Homo sapiens: one gene and its partners. The protein of the gene in region 4 interacts with the protein of the main gene of each other region in a biochemical or structural test. Each region holds a gene or a part of one and is shown on either strand. Other genes may lie near its edges.

What was found.
Region 1: the proteins of GIT1 (region 4) and PXN form a complex in vitro, tested with the Homo sapiens proteins (one study listed by BioGRID).
Region 2: the proteins of GIT1 (region 4) and KLHL4 form a complex in vitro, tested with the Homo sapiens proteins (one study listed by BioGRID).
Region 3: the proteins of GIT1 (region 4) and ARHGEF7 form a complex in vitro, tested with the Homo sapiens proteins (one study listed by BioGRID).

What each region holds. Positions count from the first base shown.
Region 1 is NC_000012.12:120,255,726-120,262,752, forward strand, and holds part of PXN (paxillin), read right to left. Parts: intron 1-7,027. UniProt on the Homo sapiens protein: Cytoskeletal protein involved in actin-membrane attachment at sites of cell adhesion to the extracellular matrix (focal adhesion). Recruits other proteins such as TRIM15 to focal adhesion.
Region 2 is NC_000023.11:87,520,778-87,527,804, reverse strand, and holds part of KLHL4 (kelch-like protein 4), read right to left. Parts: intron 1-7,027.
Region 3 is NC_000013.11:111,272,289-111,279,315, reverse strand, and holds part of ARHGEF7 (rho guanine nucleotide exchange factor 7), read right to left. Parts: intron 5,503-7,027; coding exon 5,364-5,502; intron 4,586-5,363; coding exon 4,526-4,585; intron 3,785-4,525; coding exon 3,638-3,784; intron 1,730-3,637; coding exon 1,643-1,729; intron 1-1,642. UniProt on the Homo sapiens protein: Acts as a RAC1 guanine nucleotide exchange factor (GEF) and can induce membrane ruffling. Functions in cell migration, attachment and cell spreading. Promotes targeting of RAC1 to focal adhesions. May function as a positive regulator of apoptosis.
Region 4 is NC_000017.11:29,572,970-29,579,670, forward strand, and holds the end of GIT1 (ARF GTPase-activating protein GIT1), read right to left. Parts: intron 6,020-6,701; coding exon of another isoform or gene 5,993-6,019; intron 5,811-5,992; coding exon 5,762-5,810; intron 5,403-5,761; coding exon 5,330-5,402; intron 4,774-5,329; coding exon 4,676-4,773; intron 4,279-4,675; coding exon 4,167-4,278; intron 4,028-4,166; coding exon 3,894-4,027; intron 3,706-3,893; coding exon 3,553-3,705; intron 3,482-3,552; coding exon 3,251-3,481; intron 3,163-3,250; coding exon 3,109-3,162; intron 2,930-3,108; coding exon 2,843-2,929; intron 2,735-2,842; coding exon 2,661-2,734; intron 2,502-2,660; coding exon 2,319-2,501; intron 2,174-2,318; coding exon 2,110-2,173; intron 1,967-2,109; coding exon of another isoform or gene 1,946-1,966; coding exon 1,733-1,945; 3' UTR 506-1,732; downstream 1-505. UniProt on the Homo sapiens protein: GTPase-activating protein for ADP ribosylation factor family members, including ARF1.

The DNA of each region.
Region 1 (7,027 bases), on a different chromosome or scaffold from region 4:
AAATAAAAAGGAGCAAAGTAAAAAAGTTAGTAAGTGCAGGTCAGGCACAATGGCTCACATCTGTAATTCCAACACTTTGGGAGGCCGAGGTGGGCGGATTACCTGAGCTCAGGAGTTCGAGACCAGCCTGGCCAACATGGCAAACGAAACCCCATCTCTACCAAAAATACAAAATTAGCCAGGTATGGTGGTGTGTGCCTGTAATCTCAGCTACTGCGGACTGCGGGGGGTTGGGGGGGGTGGGGCGGAGGCAGGAGGATCGCTTGACCCTGGGAGACAGAGGTTGCAGTGAGCCAAGATCATGCCACTGTACTCCATTCTGGGCGGCAGAGCAAGACTCTCTAAAAAACAAAACAAAAAACTGAAGTTAGTAAAAGCAGAAAAGTAAAAAGAGGGAAACAGGCAAGACACATGGTGGCTCACACTTATAATACCAGCACTTTGGAAAGCCAAGGCAGAAGGATTGCTTGAGGCCAGGAGTTCGAGACCAGCCTGAGAAACATAATGAGACTCCGGCTGTATAAAAAATAAAAAATTGGCCAGGCATGGTGGCACGTGCCTGTAGTCCCAGCTGCTCAGGAGGCTGAGGGCAGGAGGATCGCTTGAGTTGGAGGTTACAGTGAGCTGTGATCAGATCACTGTACTTCATCCTGGGCAAGAGAACAAGACCCTGTGAGAAAAGAGAAAGAAGAGAAGAGAAGGAGAGGAGAAAAACGGAACCAGAAGAAAAAGGAGAGCCAGGTGGACCTGCAGATGGGGACATCGGGGCCACATGGGGCCACAGCCATCTACACTGACAGAAGATGATGACCATGAGGTATAAAAGGGGGTAGAAAGATGGGGACGTGGGGGGTGGAGTAAAGCGTGAGCAAATAGAGGCCATCCTTGAGGATCTGTCTACTATGTGCTAAGCACCTCACTCAGTCTCCCAACAATGTGGAAGGCAGGCATTACACCCATTTCATAGCCTGCTTTCAATAGGGTTTTTTTTTGTTGTTGTTGTTGTTTTTGAGACGGAATCTCGCTCTGTCACCCAGGCTGGAGTGCAGTGGCCTGATCTTGGCTCACCGCAACCTCCGCCTCCCAGGTTCAAGGAATTCTCCTGCCTCAGCCTCCCGAGTAGCTGGGATTACAAGCATGCGCCACCACGCCCAGCTAATTTTGTATTTTAGTAGAGATGGGGTTTCTCCATGTTGGTCAAGCTGGTCTCGAACTCCCAACTTCAGGCCTCAGGTGTTCCACCTGCCTCAGCCTCCCAAGGCTGGGATTACAGGCATGAGCCACCGCGCCTGGCCTCAGTAGGGTTTTTATGTTTTAGAAGAGGCCAAAGTCTCCAAGGCTCATTCAAAACAATACACACAGACCGGGATCCAGAAGAGAATCGGCCTGAAGCTCCCTGGAGCTCCCTGGAGGGTTCCACCCCCCTTGCTCCAGCTCACCCAGAGTTCTACGATTCAAAACAGCTGGAAATGTGTGCCCTGCTCTCCCCAACAAGAAAACAGAACAGAACATGGCTGTTTCTGCCAAGCGAATTCTGAATAAGCTGCATTCCATTTCATTAAAACAATTACCTGAGCTCCAGCCAAGAATTACATAAAGCTTCCTCCCAGCATCACCCCCTCCCCCATAAAACACACATCATGCTGCTTTCAAATAGGCAGAGTGAAGCTCTGAGCCCTCGCTAGAAGACCTCATAGTCCTCGCCAAGTGGCCAGCCTCGGCATCTCTGCACGCTGACATAGATGACATGAGGCTGAAAGAAGACCTTGGCATGAAGCCCTCCCCTCATGAGAGCCTGCTGGCTGCCCGAAATGTTTCTAGTAGGCACCAGGGCCCTCACCTCTGCCTCAGAGCCAAGAGGGCCACTGGTGCCAGAATCCAGCTATTTCCCCAAAACAGACTGGAGGTCCAAGAGGGCCAGCTTTGAGTCAGCACAAACTAGACAGGAGGGACCAAGGGAGTGGGGATTCCAGGAGGGGGAGCCTGAAGGCTGGAAAACTGGATGGTCAGACTTGAGCTATAAGCAAAAGCCTGGGGACACTCAGCCATCACTGCCCACAGGTTAATGGTGTTCCACTGGCCACAGATAAGGGGTTCATGATGTGAGGCAAAAGACATCTCCTCCCCGCCCACAGGCCTCAAGCTGCCCAGAGACCGTTCCCTGAATTATGTAAAGCCTTGCTGTGGCTGGGCACCGTGGCTCACACCTGTAATCCCAGCACTTTGGGAGGCCAAGGCGGGCGGATCACCTGAGGTCAGGAGTTCGAGACCAGGCTGGCCAACATGGTGAAACCCCATCTCTACTAAAATTACAAAAATTAGTCAGGCGTGATGACGCACGCCCATAATCCTAGCTACTGCGGAGGCTGAGGCACAAGAATCACTTGAACCTGGGAGGCAGAGGTTGCAGTGAGCCAAGATCACACCATTGCACTCCAGCCTGGGTGACAGAGTAAGACTCCGTCTCAAAAAAAAAAAAAAAAGTCTTGCTCTGCATCCCATCAGCCTAGACAACCCATCTCAAACTCCAACCAGAGTTCGGCATCTCACATGCTTCAACCCTGGTCTGATTAATGTCATCATGCTCAAATAACTCATGAGGCTGCCTCCACACCTATGGACACACACTGTCTCTGGGCCTGTCTTTTTTCTGCACAGGTCACAGCACTGTGCTCCCCATTTCCCAGATGATAGTCAGCAGTCACTGTCACCTGAGGCCCCCCCAGCTACTGTCTCTGCTCACCCAGTCTTCCCACCACCTGCTCAATCACAGGAGACCAGCAGTCATTCAGGCCAACCATAGGCAGGCGCAGGCCAGCACCTAGGCCCAACAACTCCAAGCCCATCATGGAAAAGCAGGGTTTCCTTACTTTTCTCCAACTTTTCATTATAAAAATGTCTAAGCACACAGAGAAGTTGAGAGGCCCGGGTACTCTCACTTAGATTGAATGGCTGTCATTGTTTTACCACTTTGTGTAAACGCATGGCCCTTGTGCTCTCTGCCCTTTATGTGTATATCCTTTTTTTCATTATATCATTTAAAACTAAGTTGAGCTGGGTGCAGTGGCTCACACCTGTAATCTCAGCACTTTGGGAGGCCGAGGTGGGTGGATCACCTGAGGTCGGGAGTTTGAGACCAGCCTGACCAGCCTGACCAACATGGAGAAACCTGGTTTCTACTAAAAATAAAAAAATTAGCCAGGCGTGGTGGTGCATGCCTGTAATCCCAGCTACTCGGGAGACTGAGGCAGCAGAATCGCTTGAACCCAGGAGGCAGAGGTTGTAGTGAGCTGAGATGGTGCCACTGCACTCCAGCCTGGGCAACAAGAGCAAAACTCTGCCTCAAAACAAACAAACAAAAAAAAACAAATAAAACTAAGTTGAGGCCAGGTGGGGTAGCTCACACCTGTAATCCCAGCACTTTGGGAGGCTGAGGCAGGTGGATCACCTGAGGTCAGGAGTTGAAGACCAGCCTAAACAATATGGTGAAACCCCACCTCTACTAAAAATACAAAAATTAGCCGGGTGTGGTGGCATGCACCCATAGTCCCAGCTACTCAGGAGGCTGAGACAGGAGAATTGCTTAAGCCCAGGAGGCGGAGGTTGCAGTGAGCCAAGATCGCGCTGCTGCACTCCAGCCTGGGTGACAGGGCAAGACTCTGCCTCAAAAATAAAAAATGAAAAAATAAAAATAAGTTGCAAGACATCATGACACTTCACTCCTAAATACTTTAGCATGCACCTAACAATAACAATATTCTCCCATAAAACCACAATACCACAATCACACAAGAAATAAGCATTAAAAGTCCGTCTTTAAGGGAAGATTTGGCCACTGGGGTTCCACTGGGCCTGGCCAACCGCATGTTCTGTCTACCACTGGCCCAGCATCCAAGGCCTCCCTGGAGAGGCCAGCCCTGAGCACCACTGGTTAGGCAATCGGTTAGTTAGTTGGAAGACTTATCAGGGTATGAATGTACACTCAAGGCCAGATATGAGACTCCCAACAAGACCCAGACTGCAAAAGGCAGAGTGGACCCCGTGAGGCTGTCGATGGAGTCTCAGGGCCCATCCCAGGTGAGGAGGGCACCCTGAAGCCATTTCCATGACTTGCTTTGTGAACATTTCTGAGAAAACTCAGCTTCCTGATTCTCTCTTCCTCTCCCCCTCCCATAGGACATCCTTCATTCTCCACCATAAAGTTTTCAACAACTCCCTCCTCTGGATACGGGAAAGACAAGGAGCATGTTCGGGTGCAGCGGGGCTGGGGGCACAGGAAGGCTTCTGATTCCTGAGCAGAGGAGGTGGCAAGGGACCACAGGGGACCTGCCCCAGGTTCTCCTTGGCAGTGGTGCTGTAAGCTCACTGCTCTGTCTCAAGAGTAACAGGTGACTGGAGAGGTGACCAGGGAGGGAGGATTGGGGCCTCCCCTGGAACAGGAGACACTCCCCCCAGGACCCTGCATCCCATCCTGAGTGTGTGTCCCCAAGAAAGAACAAAAAGGCCGGGTGCAGTGGCTCACGCCTGTAATGCCAACACTTTGGGAGGCCGAGGCGGGTGGATCACCTGAAGTCGGGAGTTCGAGACCAGCCTGACCAACATGGAGAAACTCCGTCTCTACTAAAAATACAAAATTAGCTGGGCATGGTGGCTCATGCCCCCAGCTACTTGGGGGACTGAGGCAGGAGAATCGCTTGAACCTGGGAGGTGGAGGTTGTGGTGAGCCGAGATCATGCCATTGCCCTCCAGCCTGGGCAATAAGAGTGAAACTCAGGAAAAAAAAAAAAAAGAACAAAAGACAGACAAGAAGCTGCAGAGAACAGGGAAATGACAGATGTGGAAGACAACAGAGAATAGGGTGGGTGCAGAAAAATGTTAGTGTCCTAGAAACAGAAAACAGTCAAACCAATGGGCAACCCATATCAGATGCAGTATTATGAACAGAAGTGTAAAGAATGCACCAGGCACAATGGCTCATGCCTGTAATCCCAGCATTTTGGGAGGTTGATGCAGGCACATTGCTTGAGGCCAGGTGTTCAAGAACAGCCTGGGAAACATGGTGAAACCCTGTCTCCACAAAAAATTTCAAAAATTAGCGGGGCGTTACGGCATATGCCTGTAGTCCTAGCTACTCGGGAGGCTGAGGGAAGAGGAACACTTGGGCCTGGGAGGCAGAGGCTGCAGACCCTGTCTCCAAAAAAAAGTGTACAAAACAGTTGGCTGCAAGTCCCGCTCAGCAGCCAGACCACCTGGATTCAAATCCTAGCACTGCCATTCACTAGTTGTAGAACTTGGGCAAGTGGGCTCACCTCTCTGTGTCTCAGTTTCCTCACTTATAAAACAGGTAGTAGTAATACGACTACTAATAAAACCTGCCTCATATGGCCAGCTTGATTCAAGCAAACAATGCATGTAAAGTGCCCAGCACAGTGCCTGCACATAATAAGAGCTCAATAAATATTATGAGAAAAAGTTCTGTAAACACTGTAAAAAAGAAAAGTACCCCCTAGGCCAGAGTGCAGTGATGCGATCTCGGCTTACTGCAATCTCTGCCTCCCGGGTTCAAGCGATTCTCCTGCCTCAGCCTCCTGAGTAGCTGAGACTACAGGCACGCGCCACCACGCCCAGCTAATTTTTGTATTTTTAGTAGAGATTGGGTTTCACCACATTGGCCAGGCTGGTCTTGAACTCCTGACCTCAAAAGATGCACCCACTTCAGCCTCCCAAAGTGCTGGGATTACAGGTGTGAGCCACCATGCCCGGCAGATTTTGTTATTATTAATGAAGGCACTGAGACTAGGATGATCCCCGGAAAGGCTGCAATGAGGCTGGAAGTTTATTCAACATCTCTGGAGCGAGGTAAAGACGCAAGAGAAGCTTCAGAGTCAGATACTCCAAGCAGGATGACTAAATAGGAGAGGAGGGCTGCTCAGTGGCCCACCAATAACTCTGGCCTTCCATCAGCCTCTCCAGCCAAGGGTACACCCAGTCTCTTCAATGCATGACCATCACTAGGGAAGCTGGAAAAAAGGAATACTGAGATATTCCCTCAAAAGACCTTGAACCTATAGTGACAGGGCTTTGGGTTCCAGTAGGCTGAGCATTTCTCCATCAAGCTATGTCTGCCCAGGCAGCAGACAGCTTCACATATCAGAAAGTGTACCCGCTGAAGAATCAAACCCACCAAGGTTTGAATCCCAGCTCTGCCCCTTACTAGCACAAGCCCAGGAGAAGGTCTGGCACTGATGCAGAGCCCACCAGGAGGGCACTATCGCTGCATGGGTAAATGCCGCCTCTGCCACACGCCCAGCAGCTGGGTGCCCTGACTCTGCCCTAACACACAGAGGGACCACAGACAGGAAAGCCCAAAGTCCAGACTTTCCATGGAAACAGGGAGGCTCCATAGCTCCCAATGCCCCAGGCAACTCCTCTGCCCCCCTAGCACTACCCCCAAGGACAATGAGGCACTGTTTTCCAAAGGGTCAAGACTGCTGAGAAGCTGAAAGAAGACATGTCCAGATTCCAGCAGCAACTGGGCACTGCCAACAGCTGGCTGTTCCCCCTGCTAGAGGATGGGAAGGCAAAGCTACCCAGTCTTGCACTGGACACACCCTTTGCCATTTCCTGGGATGGGCCCCTAGGGCAGAGATTGTTAAAGGTAACTATCAATTACTCAGCAGGCCCCAAGGCTCATCCCCCTGGTTAGTCACCAGCACCTACCACCTTATGATGATTAAGATAACCGGATCTGGAATTGGATGAGCCTGGGTTCAAATCCCAGCACTACCACTAAACTTCCCTGAGCTCAGGTTTCCACATGTATAAAGTGGAGCGAAAACACCTCCCTTTCTGAAAGGTTGTGATACAGCTCGTAAAGTGCTGAGTACAGTGCCTGTCTCCCATGAAGCGCACATGATCATGATTAGACCACAGTTGTGGTCAAAGCCCCCACCAAGTACACTGAGAACATGAACAGAGGAAGAGCAAGCAATCGGGTTAGAAAACACAGTCAGAGTGCATCTCAGTG
Region 2 (7,027 bases), on a different chromosome or scaffold from region 4:
GAGTAGCTTTCCCAGAGAGAGTCTTTCTTTCCTACAGATGAATCCTAGGGTGTCACTTTTATATGGTATATATGTCAGTGGCCTAGGCTGTGGAGCTCTGGGATGGCAGTGTCACCGTTTTGCTGGGAAGGAAACACCAGGCTGGTTTTTATGCTGGATGTGTGGGGGTGGAAAGCTCTCCAGGGGGTTGGAACAGCCACTAAACTGGCTATGAGGATGGGCATGGGCACACACATATATGTGCGGGTGTGGGAAGCTGGCAAGTTGTTCAGAAGATTCTCTGCTGTGCAGGTCCAACTGTTTCCTAGGGAGGAGAGTGTCGCGTGGCTTTGGTTGCTTAGGTCTTAGTTTTAACATCAGGCCCAGGCTCTTGGCAGCCAGGGTTGTGGTGCTGCAGGCACCCATGTGAATGTGATAGAATGATGATGAGGTCTCAGGGACAAAGAGTATAAGTGGTTATTGGCCTCCAATGCAGGACACACTGTAATGGTGAGTCCAGTTTCAAGATGGTGCTATGATGCAACAGCTTACGATACAGGGTTGCAGAACTATATTTTTAAGAATGTTCTCAAAAGCTTGGAATCTTTTATAGTAGATTAGGTAATCCATGTCAAGATGACAATTAGTGTAAATATATAAAAGTGAGGTGTTTCTAACTGCCTGGGAAAACTTCCTTGCAAAAATCTCATTAACTAAAAATTGCAGACTATTTTCGTCTCTTGTTCAGGAATTTCAATGATAAATTTTTCCATTGTTTTCATTATTTCATTCCATAGTTTTATAGTTTTCACTGATTCTTCATTGTCTACAACAGTACCTCTTAAATTTTCTTGTAAAATGGAACTTTTTGAGAACCTGAGGAAAGTGAATGGAACCTCTCCCTCAAAATATTCACACACACAATATATTTTAGAGATTTCTTGAGGATTAATACGCTCTGACTTCTAAGAAAATGTCCAGAGTCCCTATCTTGTCTTTTAAGAGCCTCCATAATATAGCTCTGACCTTCTTTTTTGGTCTCCTCATTTTGTAGTCTTCTCCAATATATGTCTTTCATTTCGACAAAACTGAAGTCTTCCATTGGAGTATACATTAAACTTCTCTGCTTCATTACCTTTTTCCTTAGAAAGGCAATAGAAAGGTTTTTCGTTCTTCCTATAATTAATTATTTCCCATAGTTGTATTAAAATGTGTCCATTCCTCAAGCTTAATCTCAAATTATGTCACCTCCATGAAACATTCCAAGATTTTTCTGGCCAGAAAGACTTTCTTTTCTTTGAATGCCTATGGAGCTCAATGACTAAGCAATTTAAAGTTTTCTTACATTGCACTTCTTTTTTACGGCCATGAAACCTTTCAAGGGAATACACTTTATCTCTCCAACTATGCCATAAGCCTCTGGTGAAAATTAGCACATATTATTTACCTTTTTATTCATTTGTATGAGTAGGAAACCATCATGCACATAAATGAGGGCTCAATAAATAATTCTTGAATGGAGGAAACATTAATAGAAAACCAACATCTTAAACAACTGAATTTTGGCACGTTGCAACATACTTCAGACTAAATTAAGTAGCTGTGTTGCTTACAATTTTATGTGACAGTCTGTTACTCATGCGTTGTTTTCAGTTTTGTTACAGGTACTGTAATCAACATTAACCAGAAAAGGACACCTAAGTCTCACTGTGCTGATAGCAGTCTAGTTTTACAGGAAAAGGGTAGACAAGAAATGTAATAGATAGCTTGCCTTTAGTAAGCTACCCAGGGCTTGATGAAGAACCAATTGCTTCTGTTACATAAGTGCCGAGAAAATTGCAAGGTATTTAGTATGGCTGCTGATGAAGAAAGAGCAATAGACAATGTGGGGAGGAGGGCAAGACACACATTCTGTACAGTAATATTTAAAAGCATGCAAGGGATGAGTCATAGTGACTAATAGTGATAAGCTAAGAAATGTTAACCAGAAGTTACAAAGAACTATGAATTCACTGCTGATAGTTTCAATAAATATGATCATTGATATTTGGTCTCTTTCAGTGCAAATGATAGTGTAAGTATAATATATATGTATTGATTTAGAAAATACATACGTTATAGTGTTTCCAGAGTAAACCTTTATGTAATGGTTAATGTTCAAAATTTCAATGATGCTCATTTAATCCTAAAACATCAGATAACTGAAAACGATTTGATTTAAGTTTTCTCACTTCTAGTCACCTTTTCTTAGATAGTTATTTTTAGTCTACTTGTAAAATCTTATTTCTCAAACAAACACCATAGCTGAAAATTTTCCATTCTTCATGGTGAAATGATTATCTAAATGGAATAGAAACACTGTAAGTAAGATATACTTAATGACTATATTTTTCTTTTAGCATAGGAAGATGATAAAAATTTTTATATAATAAAGACTGTCTTATATCTGTCATTGTTTTTCTTTTGAGAGATAAATCGCAGCAATGTAAATATTATTTTAAAGTAGCAGGCCATATTTTTATTTGAAAATACTAATAAATATATACCACTTCATTAGTGTTCGTGGAATCCTCAGTGATAAAAAAATAAGTTTTTCTGTTATACCCAACTGTGATTTAATTAGTTGCTACAGCCTTAAAATTGATATACACTGAATGATAGCCACAATTAATATCATGTTAGTCAGATTTGATACTGCATGTAGTTACTAGATGTTATCAGAACTTTAGCTAACTTCTTTAGGATTGCCTTTATGATATTATCTTGTTTCTAATGTGTAGGATTTATGCATTAGAGACAGTAACAGCCCATTGATTTTGACTCAGTATTACGTTAACTAGTTGCCAACAAGCAAAACAAACAACAACCAATACCCAGTTTTCCCAATTGGATGGTCCTTTATTGCTGACTTAGGAAATTGATTCACGCAGATAACCCTTGCTAAAATATTGCATTTTTTTTAAAGAAAAGCTGTGATAGTTTAATCATAGAATAGAGTCCCCACATACCCCGCACTCAATTTATTTTACTATTAACATTTTGTTAGTATCGTAAATATGTTACAATTAAGTAACCAATATTCATACATTATTATTAACTAAAGTCCATTTTTGTTCAATTTCCTCAGTTTCCACTAAAGGTCCCTTTTCTGTAACACATCACATTTATATTTCATGTCTCCTTTGGCTCTTCTTGATTGTGACAGTTTCTCAGATTTTCTTTTTTGATAATACTGACAGTTTCAGGAGTATAGACCAGGTATTTTGTAGAATGTCCCCCTATGTAAATTTCTCTGATGTTTTTCTTATGATTAGATTGGAATGATGGGGATGGGGGAGGAAGATAACAAAGGTAAATATTATTGTCATTACATCACACTAAGTGTACATACTGTCAACATGATTGAACAATATTTTAATGTTTAAAATGTTTAATTGACAGTTAATAATTGTGCTTATTTATGGGGTACAATGCAATGTTTTGATCTATGTATACATTAAAAAGATTTGATAAACTAATTATCATATCTGTCACCTCACCAATTTATTTTTATTTTTTGGTGAGAATGTAAAAAATTTTAGCAATTTTGAGCACTTTTGATGTTAAACTTGAGTATCTGGCTAAGCTCATATTTGTCAGACTTCTCCGCTAATGGTGTAAATTTACACTTTCCTGCCCTTCTTTCATACCGTACTCGACCCTTTGGAAAGAAGTCACTATGTGCAGCTTACACTTAAGGCCCAGTATTCTGCTCGACCTCTTTGAGGGCAGAGTGCTGGCATAAATTATTTGAAATTCTTCTGCACAAAAAAATTGTCTTTTTTCTTTCATTTATTTATTTATTTTTATTTATTTATTTTTTTGAGACGGAGTTTCACTCTGTCGCCCAGGCTGGAGTGTAGTGGCGCAATCTCGGCTCACTGCAACCTCTGCCTCCTGCGTTCAAGCAATTCTCCTAACTCAGCCTCCCGAGTAGCTGGGATTACAGGTGCCTGCCACCACGTCTGGCTAATTTTTGTATTTTTAGTACAGACGGGGTTTCACTATGTTGGCTAGGCTGGTCTCGAACTCCTGACCTCAAGTGACCCGCCTGCCTCGGCCTCCCAAAGTGCTGGGATTACAGGCATGCGCCACCACGGCCGGCCTTCTCATTTACTCAGTCATCTATTTATATCAGTATGGACTCATGGGTGTTTATTTTATATTATGATTTGCAATCCAATAGTACTTCCTTTTGCTATTGAAATTGTTCCAGTTTTGGCTATTGGGAGCTTTTTTAGTTGATCCCTGTGTCCCTTTGACACACCTACATCATTTTTTTGAATACTTATTTTCTAGCACTACAAGATGTTTCAGGTTTACCTTTCAGAATATTGATTTTGACTTAAGTTTTTTAACTGAGGATCCAGTGTTCCCCAGTGCTCCTCCTTGATTTCGGTTTTTCTTTCTCCTTTAAATAAAATAATTTCACACTGGTACAAATACATACATATACATATACGTGTACATATATGTATAAAACACTGCAATTATTTTCACTAATAAAGTCATATGACTTATAATGTCTTAAGGCATCAACAAGATTAGCATTAGGGGCAAGGGTCAGAAAGAAGACATACAAGTTTCCAAAAAAGTCTTTAAAGTACAAAGTGACTGAACATTTGTGCAATTTGCAACACGTCAATATAATTAATATGCTGCTCTTGACATCACATGTTATATAATACAATGCATTTTGAAGCCTTTATTTCTATTTCCAAATGCAAAAATTAAATGATGTCTTTCACATATCAGAAATAATAACTATGTTTAATCATAAAAGAATATGTCTCCAAAGTATCACCAAGATCCTTAAATGAGAGTCCCCAAATTTTGAAATATTAAATATATTTTAATGAATGTTAACTTAATTATATACGTGATACCGTACTGTCAAGAATGAGACATGAAGACCATGGTACCACACTCTCAGGATTGAGGCAATGAGTAGCAAGGATTTGCAATCAACCAGCAAAGCTTTCATCTCTAAAAATGTTAGGAATCATTGCAATAAATTTAAATTTTTTGTCGTAATGTTCTAAATGTAGTAAAGCAATTGAATAACTTATGTAATTTTGTGCGGTGTGTTTTAAACCATAGGCAAAAAGATTTAACCTTAACCTTTCTGTAAATAACTATATAATTGTAGTTCATTTCTCATTCCTTCATTTGACATAAAAGTCTCTACTGAATAATGCAGTGTAAAGTTAAGTGAAGCAGGCCTAGTTCTGAACTTCAGAAAATCACACTATTTTCACCTCGTAAGAAGACAGGCAACAACATTAACAGATATAATGCCTGGAGAAATACCAATTGTAGATATGAGCATCAGCTTCACATTCAAAGATTTTCCTTGGGGGCAGGAGAAAATATATGTAAAGTGCTCCATGCTTGGCACACAGTAAGCATCAACAAAAGGTACTTCTTATTTTTAATGTTGTATTAGTATTGCTTTGTTATTGTTACCTTTCCAAAGTCATTTCCTACCACTCTCTCTGTTGAGCGTGCTTCTCCAGATACACTATCAACCACACTCCCATCTCAGGTCCCATGAAATTGATTTCTTCCTGGAAAGCACTCCCTGCAGATACCCACATATCTCATTTTCTGCTTTATGGGAAATAATTTTACAATAAGTTTCACTGTTTTAGACTTACAATTTCTCTTATGCATGAGTATTTCCCTAGCATATTTCATAAAACAGATGGGTTTGTGTTGAGGATGAAGACCTACAATACATTTGACCCTATCTGAATCGTTTTGTTAAAAAAGGCAAATACACTATCATGTGTCTGTTTTCATAAAAGGCAGAGGTCTCTGTATGAGGCATGTGCCACGCTGGCTGAATAGCCATATCCCCAGAGGGCAAAAGAGCAACATGGTTACAGGATGGCTGGAAAGTCACCTCTGTGGTCATGGACCACACATGTGATCCTAAAATCACTATAATGAATAACAGGGCAGGACATAATTTTTAGTTCACCGGTTAAGGAATATTTTGAACATTAATCAATGGACTCTGTGGGGACATGTGGCATTGATTTGTATAGAAAAGCATATATGGTGGTTAAGTACTCCCTTGGCACAGGAGAAGTACCCTCTCATTTGCTTCAAATTCTTGAGTCAGACATTCTGTCTTCTTTTCACTTCATTTAAATATCTACTCAAATATTACCTCATCCAAAAAGCCTTCTCTATCTGAAGGAGTGCCCTCTACTTCACTCTATTCTTTCAAATTAATTTTTCTCATATTATTTATAATCACCTAAATATTATAATTTGGTTTGTTTTTATTGCCTCTCTCTTCCCATTAGAATGTATATTCAATGATTCAATGAAAACAGATTTCTCTGTTTTGATCCTGTTTTATCCCTAACATCTAGAAGAGTGCCTGGAACACAATGAATGCTCAATCTTTGTGGAATAAATTATTAATAAATTCTAAGTCTTATTCATCCAATCCTACTTTCTTTTGGATAGCAACATATACAATAACATCTGCTCATTTTTTCTAGGCAAACCTCACTTGAAACTTGGAAAGGGCTCTAGTAAAGAAAGAATGGAGTCTTTTCTGGCAGTGCACAGATGACAAAAATATTTAAAGTCACATATCAGTACAGTTGGTAGGTTGTGCAAAAGCCTGAAACCCCAACAGGTAAAATAAGGGCATGGTCCCCATTCCTGACAATTCCTTAGAATTAAACAGCTCTGTAAATGTCCAATTTTGTACTGGGGCATGTTCTTGGCCCATAAATGGTTCATTTGCACTTTATTCAATGTCTTCGAACACAAAGAGGAAATCACGACATCTCTTTCAGTAAATGCAGTAAGCATGATTTTTCATGTTAACACTGTGACATCCATCTGTATACTTATGCAATAATATGTTTATGAGCAATTGCAAATACCTATATATATTATTTCATAATTAAATACTCTGTCACATAGGAAGCATTATCATAATACAATGTTAAAATATGTGTTCTTTTTGTTGGAATGCTATGGTTGA
Region 3 (7,027 bases), on a different chromosome or scaffold from region 4:
TGAACGATCCAGTCCAGAACGTCAGCAGTGCCCAGGCTGAGAAATCTCATCCTAAAGCATGGCCGGTGGAAGAGGAGACTGCTGGACACTTCTGTGGCCAAGCGTATTTAAAAAATGCTACACACTGTGAACTCCTTTCCAAGATTCGTAATGCATATAAGTACTTTAACAGCTGTAAGTCCTACAGAAAATGAAACCGCACAACTGTGTTTAACCTAGCCCCTCTGAACATCGGTGTATAGAACACTATGACTGTGGCTGGACCGAACACTTTTTGGCATCCCCCAAAGCCAGTGTTCTAATGGTAGAAACGGATACCAATGATACAGAGACCATGGGTCACCACTGTGCTAAGAATGGAAAAATAAAATCCTGTTGTTGAGATGAGCTCCAGCAGTCTGTCAACACATCAAGGGCAAATCCAGTGTAAGCACCAGCCACACAGGCAGAGACTCAAGCCTGCCACAAGTGACAACCTCTTCTCTCCTTAGGTTAGAGAAGGCCCCTGCCTCCAGCCACTGGAATGAGATTCTGGGGATATAAAATCGGAAGCCAGATAGTGCTGACCAGAAAGGACAGAGATTTAGGTTTATCAAGGTCATTTAACACAGAAGTAGCTGCTAGTTTGGGGGAAACTGTAGTGGGCACTATCCTAGCCACAGATCACCTCTCTTCAGCAGTGGCCTAACAAACTACAGCCTCACTTTCCTGAGTCTGTTCCTACATATGTGATTCACCAATTCTAAAGCACGTGTGTTGGTGTAAGCGTATGGCCACAAGTCCTCTCTGGGTGTCGGCAGAGCCTCTGTGAGGGCATAGTGTCTGCTTAGGGATCTTGAACGTCCTTGCTGCGCCAACACAAAACAACACGTGCTACAATGAAATGCAACCCAGAGAACACGAAGTGGCGGCTTCTGCTGCAGTGGTTACGTGGTGACTGGCCAGTCCTCAGAAAGTTGATGGGAAGGATATGAGCCTCTGTAACTTCCCAGAAAAAGAAGAATGAAACCTGCCAAGTGCATCTACTAGACAGACAGCGAAAATACCAGCTCCTTCATATACCACCACTATAAACCACTGTCGCAACAGAAAAGGCCCTGCTCACCCTTGCACCTCCTTCCCAAATCTGCTGTCACATTTTCTCAAAGAGAAGCAGGGAAACAAAAATTAAAAAGGTTCAACGATCACACACTGCTACTTACACCCTTACATCACTTTCTGTTTGCTGATGCATTTGGGCGGTGCCGTGCCACTGACACAAGATCTTAGTCTACACTACCCCACTAACCCACAAGCCCTACTTGAACCAATTTCACAGAATAAAACCATAGCAAGGAGGAGCAAGGTATTTTGCATGAAACGACAGAAGGCAATGACAGAGACTGACTTGTGCCACAGTAGTCTGTGTCCTTATGAGGTTGCTCTACAGTTTACACTTCTTTCCTTTTTTGAAATTAACATAGGATATGCTTGCAGTCACAACGAAACACAAACAGGAGCTGTACGTCCATATCTGAATATACAGCACTACACACACAGCACATACACAGATAGATACACGTAATATTTAACACAAAATTCAAAGCCAGTTTGAAATTATCCTCAGATCCACAATAAAATATAAATTTAAATTGTGTTTTACCTGATAGATAAAGCCACTCATCCTAGGACTGGCAGACAACATTAGCAAAACATTTGGGAAGAGTAGAAGATATCTTTCATTCTTTTCCTAATACAAAAAAAGAAATCCAAAACATTTCTTAAAAAACATCTACTTAACAAATGTGAGCACAAATACTTCACTTATTTATACTAGGCCCTATGAAACATTACATGATATTTCTCGTTTAGGTATTTCTATCAAGTTTTATCAGGTAAATTAAATGGAAACAATTATGATAAATTCTGTATTAAGTCTTAACATATGATTATGAGAGAGCTTTAACATATAGGTAAAGAGAAGGACTTCCAAATTCTTCAAAAAACAAAAGGTAAGAAAGTAAACGGACTGATTAAAAGATCCTGGACTCACAATTAGCCTGTGTAACATCTTGAAACTATATTTGGTTAAAGAGTTCAGCTCTGTGATTAACTATTTTCAGGTAAGCTAAAATTTTCTTTTTCTGGTTCAGAGAAAAAGGAGAGAACCTATAAATTTTAATGGGGTCAGGGGGAACAGGTGGAGTCTTTAAGCTAAAGAAAGGATAAAATGTTAAAATCAATTTTGGTCTACTAGTAATTCCTGGCACTTCCCAAACCTCCCAAATGTCGACTCAGTGTTGTTTTCATCCACCCCATAAACATCACCTGGTTTACATCAGACTTAAAAGTATTACTTATGTATTAAAAATCATTTGCTTCAGTAAGATAAAAGCCAAAGAGACCATAAGTGAAAGAAAAAAGTTCCTAAGAATCCAAAAAGAGACAAAAAAATGCCACAGTCCTTTTCACATGTTGACATTTAAACTACGGCCCAAAAAAGTGAAATCAGTCCTAGGAATTAGTTTCCCCAAGTATATTCCTCAGAACATTAGGCTTATGCAAAGCACCTTGAGAAAAGAGTCTTCCGTACTTTAAAGAAGTCACTGAGAACGACTTGCTATATTCCCCTCTTGAAGAATCACAACATACATTGGGAACATTCACAGCCAAGTCTCTGAGGAGCTCTATCATAAAGAATCTTTTCCACTAATTACGTTCAGTCGTGATCAGAACCACTCTGAAGCATTTTGGAGTAACACCCACCAGTGCTGTATAGATCTAATATTATAAAGAACACACTTTGGGAAATGTTTCCACAGATTAAAGTTTAAAAGAGCATGACTCAAAAAGAAACTTCTTCTGAAAAGATGTGAAGTTTTTATAATCATGGTTTCTTATGGTACCCAAACTACAAGACTATGTAGAAGGGGTGATATTTTACAGGTGGAAAGGAAAACACACTATATAAGTTTGAAGTTTTAGTTTTCTTATTCTCCTTGGAGTCTTGTGTTCAAAAATGAGTCATTTCGCATGTTTTGATCATGTTATTTTTGCAAAGGTAGAATAAAATTCAGAAAGAGGTGCCTGTTCAGTGACCCATTGAATGTATGTCAATGTGAATCATGAAACAAACTGCTCGATTTTCACTGTGTGGGTGGGTATGTCCCAAAAATCTGGGTTGATCTCTCACTTAAACCAAACCTGTAAGAAAACTGTGACTCCTGTAAGCATATGTCAGCTAGCATACTTTCACAGGAAAGTATAATGACCCGAAAGCATTGAGAGCAGCAGGTCCCTGTGAGAGTGAGCCTTGGTACAAAGTTGCTGGCCAGATAAGCGCATACAGCTCCATGCGGATGTGTGCACAGGACTCCTGCAAGTCTTTCTGCACACTATCTATCCTTCAGTTCACGTGGGCTTCGGGCCACACTGACTTCAGCTGGATCAAACTGATCAACAAGTCCACACTCAGCTCTAAGCCTCTCTAACATGCCATAAGCCTCTCTCCTGTGTCAAGAATAAAAAGTAGCTCACAAATTATAAGATAGAGCTTCTATTAGACATTTTTCATCGCTTGAGATGCCTTTAAAATCTTCTGCTATGAGCTCCTAAGAGTGGGACAGAAACCCTGGTGCGTGCATGTGGGCAGCAGTACCTCACTTCCGGCACACTGAATCAGGACCTGGGACATGTAAGTGACGTTGCCCAGAGTTTTAATGTCATCGCCCTCCCAGTTCCGGATGGCTTCCGTCAGGATCTGCAGCTCAAGCTCTTTCCTCTTCCGGACTTCTTGACATTGGGCCTGACAGACACAGAACAACACTGTTAACAGACATAAACTTTCAGAATGTTAAGTTCCGGCCACATTGCTTTGTATCATCCTTAAGACAATTATTGCTTTATATCTTACTTCTTCAGACAGATAATTTATTGAGCGATTTGCTTAATTATAGGGAATTGAAAGTATTTGCTTAGAAGTATGAAACCAAGTTAAGAGAAGCAACACACACAACTGCTCTGGAATACTAAGTATTATTTTAGAAAGATAGAGCACATTTTGCCACTTGTACAAAAAAGAAATGTGGACAGGACAAGAACTGTATTTTCATTCTGGTTTTGTTCGTGTTTGCCAATATGGAAGACTGAAAAGAAGAAACAGAAAGTATAACTTGTGCTATAAAATAAGGCCATATATTTCCAAAACGCAGTTGGTAAGACAACACAACAGCAGAGAAAATGGAACCACCATTGTTCTGTTTTGCAATAAATCATTAAAGACAACATGAATGAAGGGTAAAAAAATGTTTTAAACAATTTTAAAGTAGATCTAACATCAATTACACAGTGACTTTAAAAAATTTAAATAATTATTCTATCATAGTCCACTAAAAGGAGTTTACCAGCCACAGAATGCCGACTCTGTTTTTCTTTCATGTCAGCACAAGTCATTTTTTAATCATTTGACTTTTTCAGTTGATAATTCTTTTACATTCATTTGTCACAATAATGTCTGGGGGGGAAAACAATATGCTTAATCACTTACTGAAAGGTTTTTGAAGGCAGCCATGGATTTTTGAATATCTTGTCTATCTGTATGATAATCCTTTGAGTAAAAGAAACATACAATTAGCTTTCATAAGGAAAAGCTTTTCTTAAAAAGGTACTTTCTACAGACCAGCTTGAAACTTTTCTAACACTTTTCAACCCTTAACATTCCCTTTTTCCCTCAGCATTAAAGTGTCAGTCTTTCAGCAAATCACGAAGCCATTAGACTTTGGGGAAATATAAGTTGGAAGAGAACAGTCACAAGCAGCAGGGGTGGGGAAGCCAACACTTGCTTCATCAATAAAGTCTTATTGGAACACTGCCACGGCTCACATACAGTATCTAAAATGGCAGAGCTGTGTAGCCGTGAAGAAGACCCTACAGTCTGCCCCCTTATAGAAAAGGTTTGCCAACTCAAGCCAAGAGAGTAACTTCAACCCAAATTTCTGCTAGGCTGCAACCTGTTATTCAAAATTAAAAGAGCACAATCATTCATCAAATGATTAGTACAGTATTACCCTATAACCTATGCACACATTGTTTGTAGCTGGATGATCCAGGTAAGACATCTCAACACTATCTGAAAATCAGTTCTCATGTTTCAGCTTTTGGAAACTTTTCAATCAGCAGCAGTGGGTAAAAGAGAGATAAGGGGTAAATGTTTTCTAATAGAGCTGGAATAAGGAGAAAAACATAATATTTAACAAAACTCTTTGTAAACTCTGTTGGTTCTGGCTTCTAAAATAAATCATGAATAATACTTTCTTTCACAGTAAGTCTGACCATGCCACTAACCCTTGGTAAGGACTCCAAGTAAGAGAATGAAAGCGCAGTACCTCCATGTGTCTCTCGAGCTCTTTGAGCAGCGTAGGGTATTTATCCAGGCGCATGAAGGGTTTGCTCAGGCCCGTGGTCAGCACGAGAATCCCAGGGCTGCTGGCACCTTTGGTCTCCATGAACTCCCCCAACTCCTCACTGGGCAGCAAGTGGCAAGAGAGACACTCGTGGTTAGCAATGAGAGACAATGGTGGCTCTCTCATCTCCATGAGCAACAGCCAGAATTTATGAAACATAAGTGTTGCTTTTAACATCTGGAAGGCTCCAGCTTTTATCCCAAATCTGCGCTGCTTATCTGGAAATGCCAAAGGGGACTCCCATCCCTAAGGGGTCCCGTTCCTGCTCTCATATGAGCAACAATAACTATACACAGCACAGGACATGTGGGTCTCCATGAGATCCTACTGATGGCGAGGTCCTCCAGCACATCAGTGCCATGCAGACATATCCAATGGAAACATGCACACTCAGAGCCAGAATGGATTCCAATAATCTCAGAGTCTCAAGGTGGTAGAACAAGGACCGAGCTGCTCCGGTAAAGAGCTAGAGCACACTGATGGTAGTCATCCCCAGATGCGAGTTCGTCCAGCGAGCAGGCCCCACCTATGTGCTGCCAGCACTCAGCCTGGGAGTAGGCAATGGCTCTTGGGGTGAGGAGCACGAGAAGCAGCAAGAGAAGAGAGCAAACGCTGATTTAGGCTTCAGAACTTCAAAAGCTTTAAGTTTAATCCTCACAATACGTGAGGAAGAAAGGGGTCCCTGTGTGCAGACAGCGAATGTTGATTTACGCTTTAGAACTTCAAAAGCATTGTTACATTCAATCCTCACAACACGTAAGGAAGGAAGGTGTCCCTGTGTATGGACATAGAAACAGTGCATATCCCAAAATTAAAGAGTCAGAAACAAGTTTTAGAACTTTCTGTATTCCTCTTCAACCATCCCCTTCACAGTGCCTCGCCTATCTTTCCCTACAGTGGGTCCTCATGTGTGTCATCTTTGTCCTCAGAGTTCCCATGGCTGTGGCAGAGGACACGGGCAGGCTTCTGTGGGGGGTCCAGCTCTTCACCCACACGTTTGTTAAGGCTGACAGTCACCTGACCGCAACACCCCTTCACTGGCGATCTCTGAGGTCTCTGTCAGGCCCTGGGTCTGCTGTCCCTCAAATTGCATGTGCCATCAGTCCACACATCTGACAGTGTACAGCCCACAGAAAGGAGGGGAGGCAGCACCAGCGCTGGCAGCCGATGCCAGGTCCAGACCAGGATGACTTCTCAGTCACCACATCCCATCCAGGAGACCCAGGTGACCCCCGCCCCATCACCACGCCCCATCCTAGAAGATAGGGGTCTCTAGTCAGCAGAGCTTGGTTCAAATGATACCCATGGCACAAATCCTAGGAACAAATTTTCCTAGTCTAGAGGTTTTCCCTTAAAAGGAAAAGATACTTTTATATCCTCATTATGTAAACGATGTCCTAAAATAAACATGAAAATCCTAACAGCAAAACTGAGAAACAAGCCAATTTCCGGTTCTGGTCTCACAGGAGCCTCCCACCGCACCACCCCAGCCAAGCTGGCTACTGCCAGAGGTCTCGGGGACACCAGAACCATCAAGGGCTCCCGGGGAAAAGACAGACAGTGTTTTGGCTAACCCAGAGGAAACT
Region 4 (6,701 bases):
CGAGGCCGCGACCTCTGCCACGTGGACCGCGCGCGGGGCGCTCCCTGGTGGCGATGGCGCGGCACTGGCCGAGCACTGCGGGGGCTTTCCTCCTTGTTGGTTGCTGAGTGGGCGGCCAAGGGGAGAAAAGGAGCCGCTTCTGCCTCCCTTGCCAAAACTCCGTTTCTAATTAAATTATTTTTAGTAGACTCTGGAGTTGAGCTTGTGCATCTGCCGCACAGAGACTCCCACCCGGACCCTCGTCCTAGGCCATGGAGGTGGTGTTTGAGGCAGCCCGCCCCCGCTGGCCAACCTGTCCCTGGACATGGGGCTTTAGGAATGTGCTCGTGGGAGGGTGGCGTTATCGTCATACATGTTAGCTTTGTTATTCGCAAACTAACTCTTCCACTAGACAGACGTTCCCAGCACAGGGGCTTCCCTAGGGCGGGGGTCCTGGGGCACTTGCAGTCACCCTTCATGTCTGCCACCTCCCTCCAGCCCCCATTCTCTAAGCATCAGAAACAGCTCATGGTCACTTCTTTATTTTTGATACAAATGTACATGACACGTCTTGACAGCCCACCCACCACCACACAGGTAGGGCCTGGCCCCCAGGGAAGAAGCGGGATGGGGAGAGAGCTGGTGGGTCCCACCGTCTGCCTCTCCAGCCTTCCCAGGCTGCAGCCAGGTTCCCAGGCCTCCAGAGGGTGGGACCACAGCAGGTGCAGGTAGTGATGGTGGGTGCTGGCCTTGCAGAGGTTACGGGGAGGGGACTCAGCTCCACAGCCACCAGCTGAGTCGGGGACCCCGGGGAGCCAGCCCCAGGCTCAGGTGCTCAGTCCTCCACCCTAGCCAGCACACATTCCCCCTCCACGCAGGAGCAGGAGGAGATGGAGGGAAGTGGTTTTTGATTTAAGTTCATAGAGAAGGGGCGAGAGTGGGGAGGGATCAGGGAGGCAGCTGGCAGGACCAAAACTGGCTACCCGGACAGTCCCTGGCTCCAGGTGGGGAAGGGAAGCTGATCCCCATGCTGGTCCCACTGCTCTGGTCCCCTCACCCCTCAAAACTCCAGATGGACCAGGCCTCCGGAACGGCACTGCCGCCCACACACTCAACACGCAGGCACGCGGGGGCACTCAGTTACCACAAAGTTAAAATTAAGGGGTGGGGAAGAAGAAAGAAAAAAAAAAAACAGACTTTCCAGTGTTTGCTGCTGGGGACCCCAGCACACAGGTTGGGGCCTGTGCCCTAGGCAGGGGCCATATGGCATTAAAGGGAGAGCAGCAAGGGGCTGGTGGCTACAGGGCAGGGACATCCATGGAGACTATGTACAAAGGAGGGGATGCCCCCGCTCAGCCCCCAGTAGGGCTGAACTGGCTCATGGGGGTGGGGCGCATGTACGGAGAGCTGCCCCACTTGGAGTGTCCCCACCTGCCCCTTTGCTGAGGGTGCCCTAGAAGGCGAGGGGCTGGGAGTGATGCCTTGCAGGCCCCTGCTCACTAGGAGGGGGGAGATGCTATATACAGAGGGGAGGTGCATGGAATGTGGGGGACAGAAGCTCCTGCCCCCCCACCTCCCCATCCTTAGGGGCTCGACAGGGGTGGGCACCAGGGCACCTGGCTGCCAGGGAGTGTGGCAGCACTAAGGGCACTTGTGCCAGTGGCTCTGTTGGGGTGGGGATTAATGTCTGGAGTGGCCCAGCTCCTATGGCCAGTGAGGTCCTAGGGTGCAGGTGAGGGTGTGGGGAGAGAGGTCACTGCTTCTTCTCTCGGGTGGTGATGGTGACCAGCTGCTTGGCAGCCTTGGCGATGTCATAGGCGCACTGGATCACCTGCTGAGTCAGCAGCTGGAAGTCCACTGGGGCGCCGGGCTCTGGGGGCACTGTCTTCCGGCACTCACTCTGCAGCCGGTAGGCGCTGGCGTTGAGCAGCCGCAGTGAGCTCCGCACTGGCTCCAGGGCTGGCCTCTGGAGGGGGCAGGAGTGAGGCTGGACCTTGGACTTTAAGCCACCAGCTGAGATCAGGGCCCAGTTTGTCTGTGTCTCCACCCAGGTAGCGATCAGATGGGATTCTCCACGCCTGCCCCAGCTCGAGGCCCTCCCACTCCTGGTCCTCTCTTTGGCCCCTGTACCTTTGGGAAGAGGGAGGCCATCTCGGTCACAGCCAAATGGATCTTCTCTGAGCAGGGCACGAAGCTGCGGGGAGAAGGGAGGCTATAAAGCAGGGGGCTCTCAAGGGAGGTTCCCAGGGACAGCAGAACCCAGGGCCCCTCATGCTCTCTGCAACACCCTAGAAGCCAACAGGAACTGCATCCCCCTCACCTCCCCCTCCACTCAGTACCTGTCATGCTTGAACTCCTGGGCTGCCCGCAACAGTTCCTGAATGTTCTTGGTGACCTGCTCTGTCTTCAAGATGACATCCTCTGTGCTGGGAAGCCCAGGATCTAGGTCTCCATCCAGGCTTTCCAGCTCTGGGTGGAAGTCTTCCTCTTTGCCCAGCTCTAGAAACCTCTTCCCTTCCAGCCTGAGGCCCAGGTCCAGAAAACAGAGACAAAGATACATATAGAGAAAGACACGTTCCAGCCTCGGAGCCGCCCGCCTTGGTCCTCACACACTGGGGGCCCTCTCAACCTCCCCGCCTCGGCATGTGAGCAGGCTGGACTGGAGACCCAGGGAGCCTCACCCCAGCAGTGGGTCCCCACTTTGCGTGTTCTCATAGTCACTGTCGGCTCCACTGCCGTGGCGGGAAAGCTTGCTCTGGAGGGCGGAGGGAAGGGGCTGTGAGCGCCGTGTTCCTGGACCCACACTGCCCCTAGCCCACACGGCCCCCAGCCACCCTGTGGGCACTGGGCATGGAAACATTACCGTGTGGCGGCTTCCCTCCTGGGAGCAGGACAGCAGCGGGGAGGAGGGAGTGAAGGGCACAGCTGAGGCAGACACCCCTTTCCGGATCTGAAACCCAGGGCAGCGCTGGATGGAGTCAGTGTGCCCCACTGCCCCCCTGCTCACCAGCAGTGCAGCAGGGACCAGGTCAGTCTAATCATCTTAAGCCCCGAATTCAGCACAGAGCCCAGAACCCCCTGGGGCTCAGAACCTACTGGCTAAGATGGACACGCCTTCCCCAGGCTTACCCGGTAAAGGCCAGCAGGGACGTGCACTGAATAGATGGCGTCGTCCTCTAGCTCCTGGGGATGTTAGCACAGCGAGCGTCATGGTGGACCCTGCGGCAGCCCCACCCATCTCCCCACACCTTGAGACCCATAGGTGACTCACAGTGCTGTGGAAAGGCTGCAGCCGCGTAGTGAGCTCGTCCCCAGGGGGGCCCCCAAAGGGCTTCAGGGCAGAGCCAGGTTCATACATGGAAAAGGCCTGGCGATCCCTGCGGTGTGTGCTCCCGCCTGGCGCCATGGGTGTGTGTTCCGCCCGTTCACTGGGGAGTGGAGGTGTGGGCACCGGCCCTGGAGGCTGCCGGAGCTGCAGGTTCTCCGCCTGCAGCTTGTGGATCTATGGGTGCAAAGTGCTGTCAACCCCCTGGAGTCCTGGGGCTCCCCCTCCCACCGAGGCTGCACCCTCACCTCTCGCTGCAGCCTCCGGAGCTCGTCGCTCAGGCTACTGTTGACCTTCATGAGCTGCTGCACCTTTGCCTCCGATGTAGCCAGGGCCTTCTTCAGCTCCAGGTACTCCTGCAGCGTCACAGCCCCGTCAGACAAGTCCGAGGAGTCCATGCTCTGCAGAGAGAGACCTAAGCTGGTCAGCACCTGGGGGCAGGGAGGCCAACACCCGCAGGGGGCAGTTATTGAGGCTAGGAGCAGCCCACCTGTCCCTCAGGCCCCTGGGCTACAAGAGGACAGAGCTGGGCCTCAGCGAAGGCCTGGGTCAGGGCACAGGGGAGTGGGAAGGAGGGTGGGACTCAGACCCGGGCCCGGTTGCTCCGAGTGGCGCCGGTGCTGCGCAGGGGCTCCTGGTCTGTGTCCTCGTCAGAGGCCACGCTGTCGTAGTCGTGTTGGTCGTCGAGGTCACTCTGGCTCCGCAGAGACAGCTCGAGGTTGTCTGAGGACACAGGAGTGTCACTCAGGCCACACTCCACCACACAACCCATCTCTCAGGTCACCACTGGCAGGGAGAGCCATGCAGGAAAGACCCCTGGAGCCCCGCCTGCTTCCCACACCCTCCCACACAACCCTCCCACCTGTGGGGCTGCTCAGGCTCTTGCCCTGCTGTCTCCGCTTGGCCTCACTGAGAATGTCGATGATCAAGGTGGCAAACTCTCGGGCATTAAAGCGGGCCAGCTTTTGTCGCCCCTGCAAGGCAGAAAGGGCCAGGCTGGCTTCAGGGGACCCCTTATGACTGACGCAGGACGGCAGGGACCAAGTAGCAAGGCATGGCTCTGCCATTTAATTTAACCCCAGCTAAAGCGTCCCAGCCTAGCTTCACCTGGCTAGTCAGCAGCCAAGGCCACCCGTGGCAGGGTATGATAGAGTAGGGTGCCTGAGCAGAGGCCGGAACACCCACCGGAGCTGCTCCCCAAGTGCTCAAAACAACAGCCTCCTGACCTTCCCAAATCCCAGTGCCAGCTGTGCCCTGAGGGAGGCCCTGGCAAATGCTGGAGAGCTGGCTCAGGCCCCAGCCCACTGCCGGATGAGGAGGGACCGCGGGGATGAAGTAGACCACCCCAGGCCCCCAATCCAGCCCCCTCACCTGATTCCGCGTGGCTGAGTATTCCGGGTTAACAGGCAGGAAGGGCACGGCACTGCGCTCTGTCACCAGAGTGCTGTGGTTTTGGGTAGCCAGCCACACTGTAGGGGACGGACAGGAGCAGATCAGCCACGGTGGCCAGGCCCCCAAGGTGGGGGTGGGGAAGCACTGAGCCCAGCCTTCCTAGCTGCCCCCACGCCTACTGAGCACTGGTGTTCAGAACAGGGGTGGTCTTTGGGCACGCAGAGCTAGGCCGGGCCAGGGCAAGGCTGGGCGTGGCCGGCTGGGGACAGACAAATGGAACAAGGCCAGTGCCACTCATCCAAACCCAGAGTTTGGGCTGGAATCCGGCTGTGGCCAGGAAGGAGTGATGCAGGGGGGTGGAGCGGTACCAGGGAGACAGCCAAAGTGGGAGGCTGCCAGAGCAAGAGGAGCCCCAGTCTGAGGCTGGGGGAGGAGCACGCTAGCCGCCTCCCCCTCAGCACTCTACCCAGCCTGGGATGCTGCCCAGGCAGGCTCACAGCCAGCAGGGGCTCATCTGCAGGCCTCTGAGCAGCCCCAACCCCAGGCACCCCTTCTTAGCCCAGTAAAGGACCAGAGACCCATGCCTGGGCCGCTCGGGTCCTCCACGCCAGACACTCCTGCTCCCTGACTCACCTGCATCATTTTCTCTTCGATCCACCTCGTCATACACGTCCATGGCGAGTTCCTCAAAAAGCCGGTTGCTGAGCTGGAGGAAGAGAGGGGCCCAGATGTTGTCAGATGCATCGGCTCCCAGTGCCAAGGCCAGCTCCCCAGCATGTTGTGAGCCTTGGGGAACCGGTGGCCTTCCTTGTGCTGCCCAGCCCCTACAGTCTCAGAATGGGAAAGTGGAAAGGGATCATGTTCCAAACTCCAAGGTGGGAGAGAAGGGACCAGTCCATCCCCTTGTAGGGAGGTCAGGGAGAGGGGACTGCTGAGGCCAGTGAGGGGACAGGTCAAAGACTTGGAAAAGGTCATCGAGTCAGAGGCAGAGGAAGCAAGAGCAGAGGGTGGGGGATCAGAGAGGGGCCAGCTTCAAGTGTCAGGGCACTGTTGGAGCAGACTTACCGCCTGCAGCTTCTTCTTAGCAGCTTTGGCCAATTCGGATAAGTCAAGGCTGAGGGCAGAGGGAGATGGGAATTGGGAGGAGAGGAGAGACCTGAGAGGTGGCCAGGCCCATGCCAGCAACCTCCCCAACATGCAGGGATCCCGGGGAGATGGCACCCCAGATGCTGCACACCAAATGCCTCCCCGCCCTACCCCACCTTCAGGCCTGCTGCCCCGGCAGGCACCATATACCTCTGAGACATGCACTTTTGCCGAGATCTAAGTCCAGAGGAAGGCAGCAGAGGGAAGAACAGGACAGAGGCGGCAGTTACCCAGGAGCAGGGCAGCACACGCCTTTTCACATCAGGCCCAGACCCATCTCCACGCACACCCGGCCCAGAAGGGACAAAGCTGAATTCATCTCACCGCGTCCCCCACCCCTCCTCCTCTGGCTTGCTCTTCCTCTCAGTGACCTGTTTGTCCACCACCAGTGTCAGCCACCTGGCAGTCACCTGAAGCCTCCCTCACCCTCCAGTCCTAGTGAAGCTCCCCAGGTTCCTCAATCACCTGTTGCCTGGGCTTTGTAAGTTTCTTAATCTCCCTCCTTCTAGTTTTGTCCCTACAATCCTGTTCCACCCAGCAGCCAGGGTGATTTTTTGGATACACCTGGCTGCACTACCCCTTGCCTTAAGGCACTGCAGTGATAACAGGTGCATATGGCACACTCCAAACATACTTCATCAGAATACCCTAGGGACGGGCACAGTGGCTCACACCTGTAATCCTAGCACTTTGGGAGGCCAAGGTGGGAGGTTCGCTTGAGGCCAGGAGGTGGAGACCAGCCTGGGCAACACAGAGATACAAAAGCAATTTAAAAATTAGCTGAGCACGGTGGCATGTGCCTGTAGTCCCAGCTACTCAAGAGGCTATGGTAGGAGGATCGTTTGAGGCTGTGGTAAGC